Linked DNA regions of Homo sapiens. The protein of the gene in region 3 interacts with the protein of the main gene of each other region in a biochemical or structural test. Each region holds a gene or a part of one and is shown on either strand. Other genes may lie near its edges.

Region 1 (2,637 bases), on a different chromosome or scaffold from region 3:
TTTTGGGAGCGATTACATATTTTAACAAATTAAATATATATAACAAATTAAAGTTTGGTAACATATTGAGTCTTAAGAATTTTCCAAACAGCTACCTGAGCCTCCAGTAAAAACAAAAACAGAATTTTCCACTCTTTCCCTAGCTACACAGTAAGCAGCATTGGATACTATAAATTTTGTAAGTACATTTTTAAAGAATGTGTTCTAAATGTGTTAGAAAAATGTTAATGAGCAACTCACATTTTTATCATTTTCTGTGGTTAGGCCAAGATGGCTTTTATGTTTCTGAAGCAATCCACAAGGCCAAGATTGAAGTTTTGGAGGAAGGCACCAAGGCATCTGGAGCCACAGGTATGTTCAGAGAATACCCAGTCACACTGCTTACCCATATCTACCTTTCTGAAATTTACCTAGTTGAATCTTCACACTTCTGAATCTTTCCATAACCCCCAAGTTCAGGTGTGGTGTAGTATTTTTTAAAAAGGAACACTAAAGAAAACAAAAAGTTTTTGAAAAATGACGGGGAAGAAGAGATATCCATCCCATAAAAATAATTCTGAAAGTTACCTTCAATAAGGAATTTATTCCATGGAATGTGTTGAAAACAGGAGACAGGATTGGCTAAATGGCATCTTTTCTCTTTAATTTTCCCATCTGCACCCCCATCACAACAGTAAACAATCAAATGCCATTAGGATGCTTTGATTTCTTAAAAAATTAACTTACTTCATAACCAATAGTTATTTTCTTAAAAATGCACAGAAAATGCAATGGAATTTTTCTTTCTTTCCTGCAGCTCTGTTGTTATTGAAAAGGTCTCGGATTCCTATTTTTAAAGCAGATCGGCCATTCATCTATTTCCTGAGAGAACCTAACACAGGTATTACAGTATTTTTTGACAGGATTCAGATAATTTATCAGTGTCTCTCTAGCAACAAGGGCTCATTTGTCCACTATCCCCTCAAAAATAAGCATTCTTTCTAGCTGTTTTTATGGTGCTTCAGAAGCTACCCAGTTGCTATCTTCTATCCTAAGAAAGGGGACTATTTCGTAAGTACAAAGGAAACTTATCCTCCATGTTTTTTACCTTCTCATTCTCTCAGCTCATATATAGTTAATGTAGATTTTTTTTTTTAATGCTATAGGTTTCTACTTCTGAAGACACTTGGAAAAATCATGAAAGTAAAATAAATTATAAATCTTGCCCTTTTTTCCCTTTGTCCCCTAGCTTTCTTATCATTTTAGAGTTTTTTCAGGTCACTAGAGTACACCAGAGTAGTCCTCTTGTGATCCTAGTATTCTAATGAATGCACCTGGATTTCTATACTGTTCTGTTGATCTTTCTCAAAAATCAAATGTTTGCCCTAGTACTTTTAAGTCCTACTACATAACCTTATGGTAATCCAAAGATGGTGTGGTACCGGCAAAGCCTCAGTACATCAGAAGGACACACAAATATTCTTAGGCTTCGACAATATTGAACAAAGTCTTTAGATTATTTCTCTTAATGTTCTTCCTCCCCCACTCACAATTACTTAGCCTAGGAAGGAAAAGAGATTCTCAGTTAAGAGTTGTTGGCAAGTCTAAACAGTGTATTAAAAAGAAATAGGATAGAACAAGACTAATAAAATCAAGCAAAGGTGGATCTACTTTAACTAAACATCAGGCATTACTTTTATTTATGGAGAAAAATGTCAAAAGTTAGAATGAAAATTATGCATAGTTTTACATAAATTGTTAAGGAAATACTGTCAACATCATTTTATCTGAGAATCATTTGCATCCTGCTGTACCTTGTGCTAGAAATCAAAGGAACATTTTTGTGACGAGAAAGATATAAACCATTCACTAGAAAATAATCTATTTGGGATTATTTGGAGAGAAAAAGTCCATCAACAGAGTATGTCTTCCTAGTATTTCACCATGATCATCCCAACCACATAACGATTAGATGAAAATATCACTTATCACCCAGAACAGGCGGCAGAGAGCCTTCTCTTAGAAAGGACACGTCAAAAAAATGAAAGATGAGAAAAAGGACAGGTTCTACTCCCTAAGGAAACAAAGAGACAGGACTACATTTGAACAGAAAGGTCATTGCCAAAAGCCAATAGCCAATAAAGGTTGATAGGTAAAAGAGAGATTCTGATTTTGGAATTCAAGTGCATAAAAATGATGTAAAATCCTTAAACAAGGAAAAGACACACCACTATTTCAATGGTAGGAGTTTTCAGAACTGCCTCAGTAATCAGAATGAAAATATAAGGATAATCCAAAACCAGTTCCACAATCCACTGGAATTCTAATAGTCCTTGTGACTTTACCTCTATCTGGGAGGCATTAGCCTACATCACACAACACAGTGGCTGCTCTTCTGGTGATGGTTATGGAAGAGTTTAGAAATGAGTCTCAGCCTTCATTATTTCCAACTGACAAATCTTACTAAGAGCAACTAATGAATCAATCAGCAAATGAGAAACATGGGAGACATTAAAAAAAAAGATTTGAAAACCTCAAGATTAAACTTTCCAAGAATATCATTTGTCGAGCCTTAAGTCATTCAGTGACATAAAGGGCCTAAAAGACATGATGTTTCCCCTAGATGTATTTCCCTTCCCCTTTGACAATAATTCTACA
Region 2 (3,657 bases), on a different chromosome or scaffold from region 3:
AGTTCAAGACCAGCCTGGTCAACATGGCGAAACCCCTGTCTCTACTAAAATACAAAAATTAGCCAGGCATGGTGCCCCTGCTAGTCTCCTGGCCTCAAGTGATTGTCCTTGCCTAGGCCTCCCTAATTGCTGGGATTACACGTGTGAGTCACTATGCCTGGCCTATTTCTTGAGGTGTTTTTTCTCCCCCAGTTTTAGACGTTGTCTATACTTTCTACTATGAACATTGAGGATTTGGTGTTGTAGACCTTATTCCAACACTCATAATTTCTACTCCCGTTCATTTGCTAGGATGTGTTTAATTTTATAAAAAGGGAAGGAATCAATAAATAAGTTACTCTGTACTCATTCACCTGTTGAGTCTTGGACTTTAGAAATACTGATGTATCTCATCCTTTTAAAAAGATTATGTGGAATTTGTTTCCCAATTTATTTAACCAATCACCTATTGATGGCCTTTTGGGTTATATCTCATTTTTCAGTGTGTGTCTTAAATCTGTGTATCTCAAAACAATATATAGTATTGCATACTTTTTTTTTCCTTTTTTTTTTTTTTTGAGACAGCAACTTGCTGTGTGTTTCCCTGGCTGGAGTGTAGTGGTACAATCATAGCTCACTGAAGCCTTGACCTCCTGGTCTCAAGCATTCCATCTGCTTCAGCCTCCCAACCAGCTAGGAGTACAGGTGCATGCCACCGTGCCCCACTAAATTTGTTGTTCTTCTTGTAGAGACAGGGTCTCACTCTGTTGACTAGACTGGTCTTCAACTCCTGGGCTCAAGTGAACCTTCCACCTTAGCCTCCCAAAGTGCTGAGATTACAGGTGTGAGCCCCTGTACTCAGCCAGTATTGCATACTTTAAGCTATATATGTATATTTGGCATATTCTTCTGCAACTTGTTATTCTTTTTTTTTTATTTTATTTTTTTTTTTGAGACAAGGTCCCACTCTGTCGCACAGGCTGGAGTGCAGTGGCGTGATCTCGGCTCACTGCAACCTCCACCTCCCCAGGCTCAAGCAGTTCTCCTGCCGCAGCCTCTCAACTGCTGACCTCAACTGATCTGCCCACCTCGGCCTCCCAAAGTGCTGAGATTACAGGCTTGAGCCACCACACCCAGCCTGCAACTTGTTATTCTGAGTCAACATTATTTCCGAAATCCTCTATATCGTATGATACATGTAGATCCAGTTGATTCATGCTCGTTGATTATTAGATTCCATTATATGACTACACTGAAATTTTCTATCCAAACTCTCGTTGATAAACATTTAGGCTGCTTTTTAATGTTTTCCTTTAATACATTCCTTCTCTGGATAGTCATCTGTGAGTCATCTTGTATGCAGGTTTGAGTTTCTCTAGAGAATGTATCTATAATTGAAACAAATTATGAATTGATGCTTCAGAGTATCACAACCATCAGCTTTACCAGATATGGTCAAATTGCTCTCCAGAATGATTGGACCAGTTTACTGTCCCACCACATTCTCAACATCATTTGCATTGTCAGACTTTAAAACGTTTGTCAATTACGTAGATTGAAAATGGTATGTACTTATTGTTTCAATTAACATTTCTCTGATTACTGGTAAAGTTCATCATCTTTTCTTACACTTACTGGCTTCTTAGATTTTCTCCTGTTTTCTGTTGGATTACGTACTTTTTTTGTCCTATTGATTTATTGGACTTATTCATACTTTTTGTTTTTTTTAATAGAGACAAGGTTTCACTTTGTTGTCCAGTCTGGTATCAAACTCCTGGCCTTAAGCAATCCTCCAGCATCGGCCTCCCAAAGAGCTGGGATTACAGGTGTGAACCACAGCAACCAGCCAGAATTCTTTTATATTCTGGATATTGATCCTTTGTCAGAAATACACATTGCATATATCATTTCCCAGTCTTTGGCAAGGCTTTTAGTTTATTTATGGTATCTTTGAGGTACTGAAAGTTAAATTTTAATATGATTGAATTTGTTAATTTTTTTGAAATCTTTAAAGGCTTCCTTTTTATGTGCTTTCCTGTTTCTGGATTACAAAGAATTCTGTACTTGTAAAATTTTTAAAATATTGATTTTAATACTTAGATCTTTATTCCATCAACAAGTTTTTCCTTTGTTGTATGATATGAGGATCCAGTATTTTTTTTTTTTTTCAATAGAGACAGGGTCTTTCTATATTGGCCAGGCTGGTCTTGAACTCCTGGCCTCAAGCCATCCTCCTGCCTCAGTCTCCCAAAGTGCTTGGATTACAGGCATGAGACACTGTGCCTGGCTAAGATTGAGTATTTTTTCTTCAGTTGTCCCAGTACTATTAATAGTCTGTCCTTTTCCCAATGAGTTGTAATGCCAAATTCCCCATACCCTTGCAATACCAAGTTCCAGTATTGGAACTTGGGTCCAATTTCTGGGCACACTATTCTGTTCCAGTGGTGGGTTTGTTTGTTTTTTTTCCCATTGCTGTTGAAATATTACAGTGACTTTAAGAAGTCTTAAAATCTGTCAACTTCCATACACCTTGTTTTTCTTCTTCAAAATCATTTTGGCTACTCTATGAGACAGTTGGGAAATGTGAATCAGGAAAATTTGAATAGGAACTAGATATTAGATGCTACTGTGGCATTATTGTTAATTTTGTTAGGTGTCAAAATGGCATGGTTATGTAAGAATGTCTGTATTTTAGAGATGCTTACTTAAGTACGTTGGAGTGAAATGACATGAAGTCTGGGGTTTTAAAATATTTTAGGCAACAAAAAGGAGAGGTTGGATGAATGAAGTAAGTGTGGCAAAATATTGGTCACTGTTGAATCTGGGTGATGGAGTAGAGGGCTTTATGAAATTACTCTATTTTTTATTATGTGGGAAAATGTTAAGAATTTTAAAATCAACTGTTCTTAGCTCCTTCCTTTTTTGAGACGGAGTCTCCCTCTGTCGCCAGGCTGGAGTGCAATGGCGCGATCTCGGCTCACTGCAACCCCCGCCTCCCAGGTTCAAGCAGTTCTCCTGCCTCAGCCTCCCGAGTAGCTGGGATTACAGACACATGCCACCACACCCAGCTAATTTTTTGTATTTTTAGTAGAGACGGGGTTTCCATGTTGACCAGGATGGTCTCTATCTCCTGACCTCAAGTGATCTGCCTGCCTTGGCCTCCCAAAGTGCTGGGATTACAGGTGTGAGCCACCGCACCTGGCCTCTTTTATTTTTGAATGGTACTCTTTGTGTATATGCACCACATTTTCTTTATTCATTCATTTGTTGACAGACGCATAGATTGCCTCCAAATCTTGGCTATTCTGAATAGTGCTGCAATAAACATGGGAGTTCAGATATCTCTTGGACATACAGATTCTGTTGGCATATATACATAGCAATGGAATTGCTAGATCAAATGATAGTTCTATTTTTAGTTTTTTGAGGAACCTCCAAACTGTCCTCCATAGTGGTTGTACTAATTTACATTCCCACCAACAATGTACCTAGGGTTCCCTTTTCTCCACATCCCTCACCAGGATTCATCCTTATCTTTTGGATAAAAGCCATTTAAACTTAGGTGAGATGCTCTCTCATTGTAGGTTTTTTCTTTTTTTTTTTTTTTTTTTTTTTTGAGACGGAGTCTTGCTCTGTCACCCAGGCTGGAGTGCAGTGGCGCAATCTCGGTTTACTGCA
Region 3 (3,657 bases):
TGAGAATGAGGGACTGATTAAATATGGAAGTCTTTCCATAATAGATTGTGCCGCTTTGTGATGAAGTAGAGAATATTGGGCATAATTCCATCCTGATGTTGGAAGGTGATAGGTGTGAGTTTAGTTCTCATCCCTGCGACGCCTCTGGGACGTCGGTTGGTGAAGAGCATCTGCCTTCCTCTAGAGAGCCTGAGTCACTTTCACTTAAAAGGTTTTTCCTCTGTTTTTCTTTTTTTCTCTGATTGCTGGTGTGGTCATTTCCAGCAACAGCTCCGCGGTTCTCTTCTGCGGTGTCCCACCACTTGGAGGCTGGAAGGTGAAGACATCAGGGAAGAGGAACTGCCTTCAACCGTCATTGACTCTGCTCACCAGCCCAGGTGTTTGATTTTTACTAAGCAAGTTCCCAGAATTGCACGTGGGCTGTTTTATAATTGACTTATCTTGACCACCTCTAAAAGTTCTCTTGAAGTTACAGATTCCTGAGATCTTTATCTGGGAGAGCAAGCATTTGGTTGAAGTTTGCTTTAAATGTTTATAGACTGATTATCGTGTATTGATCCTTAGAGTACCCCTTTCAGATTATGCAAATAACACGCACTTGTATAGACAAGCATGGGCAGAATCCACAACTGCTTTTGTGGAGGCTCCAACCCTGGCTTCAGCTCATCTGCGTGTGAGGGCAGGGGAGGTGCAGAATCTGCTCCTGGGCTTGTGCTGAAAGGAGGTCCCTTTTAACAGGGACCTCCCAGCACCAATGGAACCCCGTGGCTCTTGGTGAGAGAGAGCAGGTCCTGCCCAGCTGATGGATCAGAAACTCAGGTGTCAGAAACGGGGTTTCAGGGCGGCTGCCTGAGGAATGCGCAGGCGATCTGACGTTGGAATTCTGGCTTGGGCGAAGCCCTTGATGTGGCCACACAGTTTTGGTCCCTCAAGGGCTTACTGGTTGCCTGCGTGCCCTGGTGGCTCCTTGGTGAGGGGCCTTTGGAGAAAGTCTTGGGAAATCAGATTTCCCGAGGGTGTTGTTGAGGACATTGCTGACGAGGTGTGGGATTTACGGGGAGGACAGCCTGTCTCTTGAGGCTTGGTCGCTGTGTTCACCCTGCAGGTGTTATGAATTAGCTTCTGGCCCAGGACGGTTTTGGGACCGGGGGGTGCCTACCCACTGTTGTTCCTTTATCTTGATCCTTTCACAGGGCTTATAAAAATACTTATTTTTCAGGAATAACGGGAAGTATCTTTGAAAACATAGCATTAAATCTGCTGAACTGGAGCTTGCAGAGAGCAGACAGCGGCAGCAGCCTGAGTGTGCTAAGCTCAAGCGTCGCTTGTGTGCCATCACCTTAGTGAAGGTGGCTCTTGACCCCACTGGCCGCCGGCTGCTTGACAGTAACTTGTTTAGCTGAGACTGTGTTTGAGAAACTGAGAGGTGTGGATGTTGCTTGTACATGTGCAGCCAGCATGCTCACAGTGCCGAGGAGCAGACTACGCGCTGCTCCAGAGCGTAGATTAGAACGTCAGTCTAAACAGTTCTTTATAGCATGGAATTTTAACAAAGAAAGAAGAATCCCACGTGGGTATGTGTGAGTGAGCCTTGTGTAGCTTAGTGTCGGTTACTGAGGCGGAGCACTGCGGAGAGAGGTAATGGAACCTGTGGCCCTGTGAAACCTCCCTCTATAAATAGCAGGTGTGAGTGAACCTGTGAAAAGCACCAGCACCAGCCAGGCAGGGTGGGTCCGTGCCCTCGTTGCCTGCATTGTTGTCACCAGGCAAGGTGGGTCCCTGCTCTTGTTACCTTCATTGTTGTCACCAGGCAAGGTGGGTCCGTGCCCTCGTTGCCTGCGTTGTTGTCACCAGGCAAGGTGGGTCCGTGCCCTCGTTGCCTGCATTGTTGTTACCAGCAACATTTATCCTAACCACATCAGTGGTTATTTTTAGACAAAGAACCATTCTGGGAACTTAAAAACACTGCATTTGGGTGAAGTTACAATAGTCACTAGATTGTCGTTTTGATCTTTAATAAGATTGTATGTTTTTGTCGGGCTTCATCCTATCTGGCAGAAGTAAGAACCTCCTCACTCCATTGGAAAGAAACTGAGGTTCCAAGAAGTTTGGACCTGCCCTGCCCCTTACAGGGTGTGAGGTCCTGGTGAGGAGGACGGTGCAGGGACCTCGTGGTCTCTACTCCCGGTTTCTCTGCGGTGCTCCTTACGGGGTGTGAGGTCCTGGTGAGGAGGACGGTGCAGGGACCTCGTGGTCTCTACTCCCAGTTTCTCTGCGGTGCTCCTTACGGGGTGTGAGGTCCTGGTGAGGAGGACGGTGCAGATGCCTCGTGGTGTGCTCAGGCCCTTGAGAGAGCCTCTGTCCTTGGTTCTCTGCGTGCTGCTCTCTGTAGACCAGGTTTCAGCCCTGGAGATTCCTAGTGTGGGGGGAGTAGCTAGAACAATAGTGTTTGTCTGCTTTTATAATATTTATGTGGAGTACAATTATTTTAATAGAAAATATTCTGACAGGTCACCATCTTTCAGAAACTAAGTCTTTTTTTTCCTGCAGATTTCTTTGCTTTGGCTTTTTCCCAGTCACTCACAGGGAGGTATTTAAATCGCCACAGAAAGGGGAAGGTACCTAAAATGATCTGGGAGCCTGCAGTGACTGGTGAGAACTAACAGGCGGAGGCCGTGTGCGAGGGTTGATGACGTCTGACAGACTGTACCTGTGCCTTTAGCGTGTCCACAGGAAGGGCATCTGCATTCACCAGCGCAGGGTGTGAGAGTGCCACAGAGAAGCAGAAAAACATTGCTGAATAAAATGAAGATCATTCCAACAGCAACGGTATTGCTGTCTTTATTGCTTTGTAGATTTTGGAATGAGAATCTCTGAGAAATAGTAATACAGTTAGAATAGGCTGCAACCTAAGATTAGTCCCCGAATTTATTGTTCTGTGATGAGGGAGTAGAAGCCTCTGAAATTCTAAATGTGCTTCAGTCAGTGCACGAACGTCGTCACCTAAGGGTCCGGTCCTGGAAATAAGGACATTTCGTTTTCATCCTGGTACCAAGAATCTTGATGAATTGGTAATTCTTTTAGAATAGTTTTATTATTAACAATTCTAATAATTATTTAGAATACTTTTATTCTTCCCTGTTGACGCCTGCACTATTTAAAGGATGATACTTTAAAAAAGATATTTGTGCCTAAAATTTGGGGGGCTGTCACTTTGTCAGCCCATTAAACGTGGGTAAGTTGCACTTCAAACGTTTTGCTTTGTTTTTCCCACTTTTCACCTAACAGAAAACCACTGGGCCTTGTTACTTGCTTGGTTTTGTTCGTCTGTGATTTACCTTTGTCATGGGTTTTTAGGTATCTCCGATCTAATCTTTTAGATAAAGGACTTTGAAGCACGTCTGCCTGGAAATGGTTTGTAGGTTTCAGAAATTTTGTGTGCATTATCAGATTTGTCTCCATTTTCATGGTTTCTTTAAAGTTAGTTTTAAAGTGGGTTATGTGAAATCATCTAGTATCTGGGTACAGAGGAATGGATGAATTCTCAGTTTTATGTGTGTTTTAAAAGTGCACAAATACAAAACGGAAAACAAGCGATGTAAGTTGTCTCAGAAAAAAGTGCTTTTTATATTTTCAGGAGAAAGAGAATGTAGAGAG

The links.
Region 1: the proteins of CTDP1 (region 3) and INTS6 form a complex in vitro, tested with the Homo sapiens proteins (one study listed by BioGRID).
Region 2: of the proteins of CTDP1 (region 3) and CDK7, one has a biochemical effect on the other in vitro, tested with the Homo sapiens proteins (one study listed by BioGRID).

The regions. Positions count from the first base shown.
Region 1 is NC_000013.11:51,361,014-51,363,650, forward strand, and holds the end of INTS6 (integrator complex subunit 6), read right to left. Parts: 3' UTR 985-2,637; coding exon of another isoform or gene 797-984; 3' UTR 564-796; downstream 1-563. Other genes in the region: SERPINE3 (serpin E3 isoform 2 precursor), read left to right, coding at 265-351, 797-984. UniProt on the Homo sapiens protein: Component of the integrator complex, a multiprotein complex that terminates RNA polymerase II (Pol II) transcription in the promoter-proximal region of genes.
Region 2 is NC_000005.10:69,237,744-69,241,400, forward strand, and holds part of CDK7 (cyclin-dependent kinase 7), read left to right. Parts: intron 1-3,657. UniProt on the Homo sapiens protein: Serine/threonine kinase involved in cell cycle control and in RNA polymerase II-mediated RNA transcription. Cyclin-dependent kinases (CDKs) are activated by the binding to a cyclin and mediate the progression through the cell cycle.
Region 3 is NC_000018.10:79,682,773-79,686,429, forward strand, and holds part of CTDP1 (RNA polymerase II subunit A C-terminal domain phosphatase), read left to right. Parts: intron 1-3,657. UniProt on the Homo sapiens protein: Processively dephosphorylates 'Ser-2' and 'Ser-5' of the heptad repeats YSPTSPS in the C-terminal domain of the largest RNA polymerase II subunit. This promotes the activity of RNA polymerase II.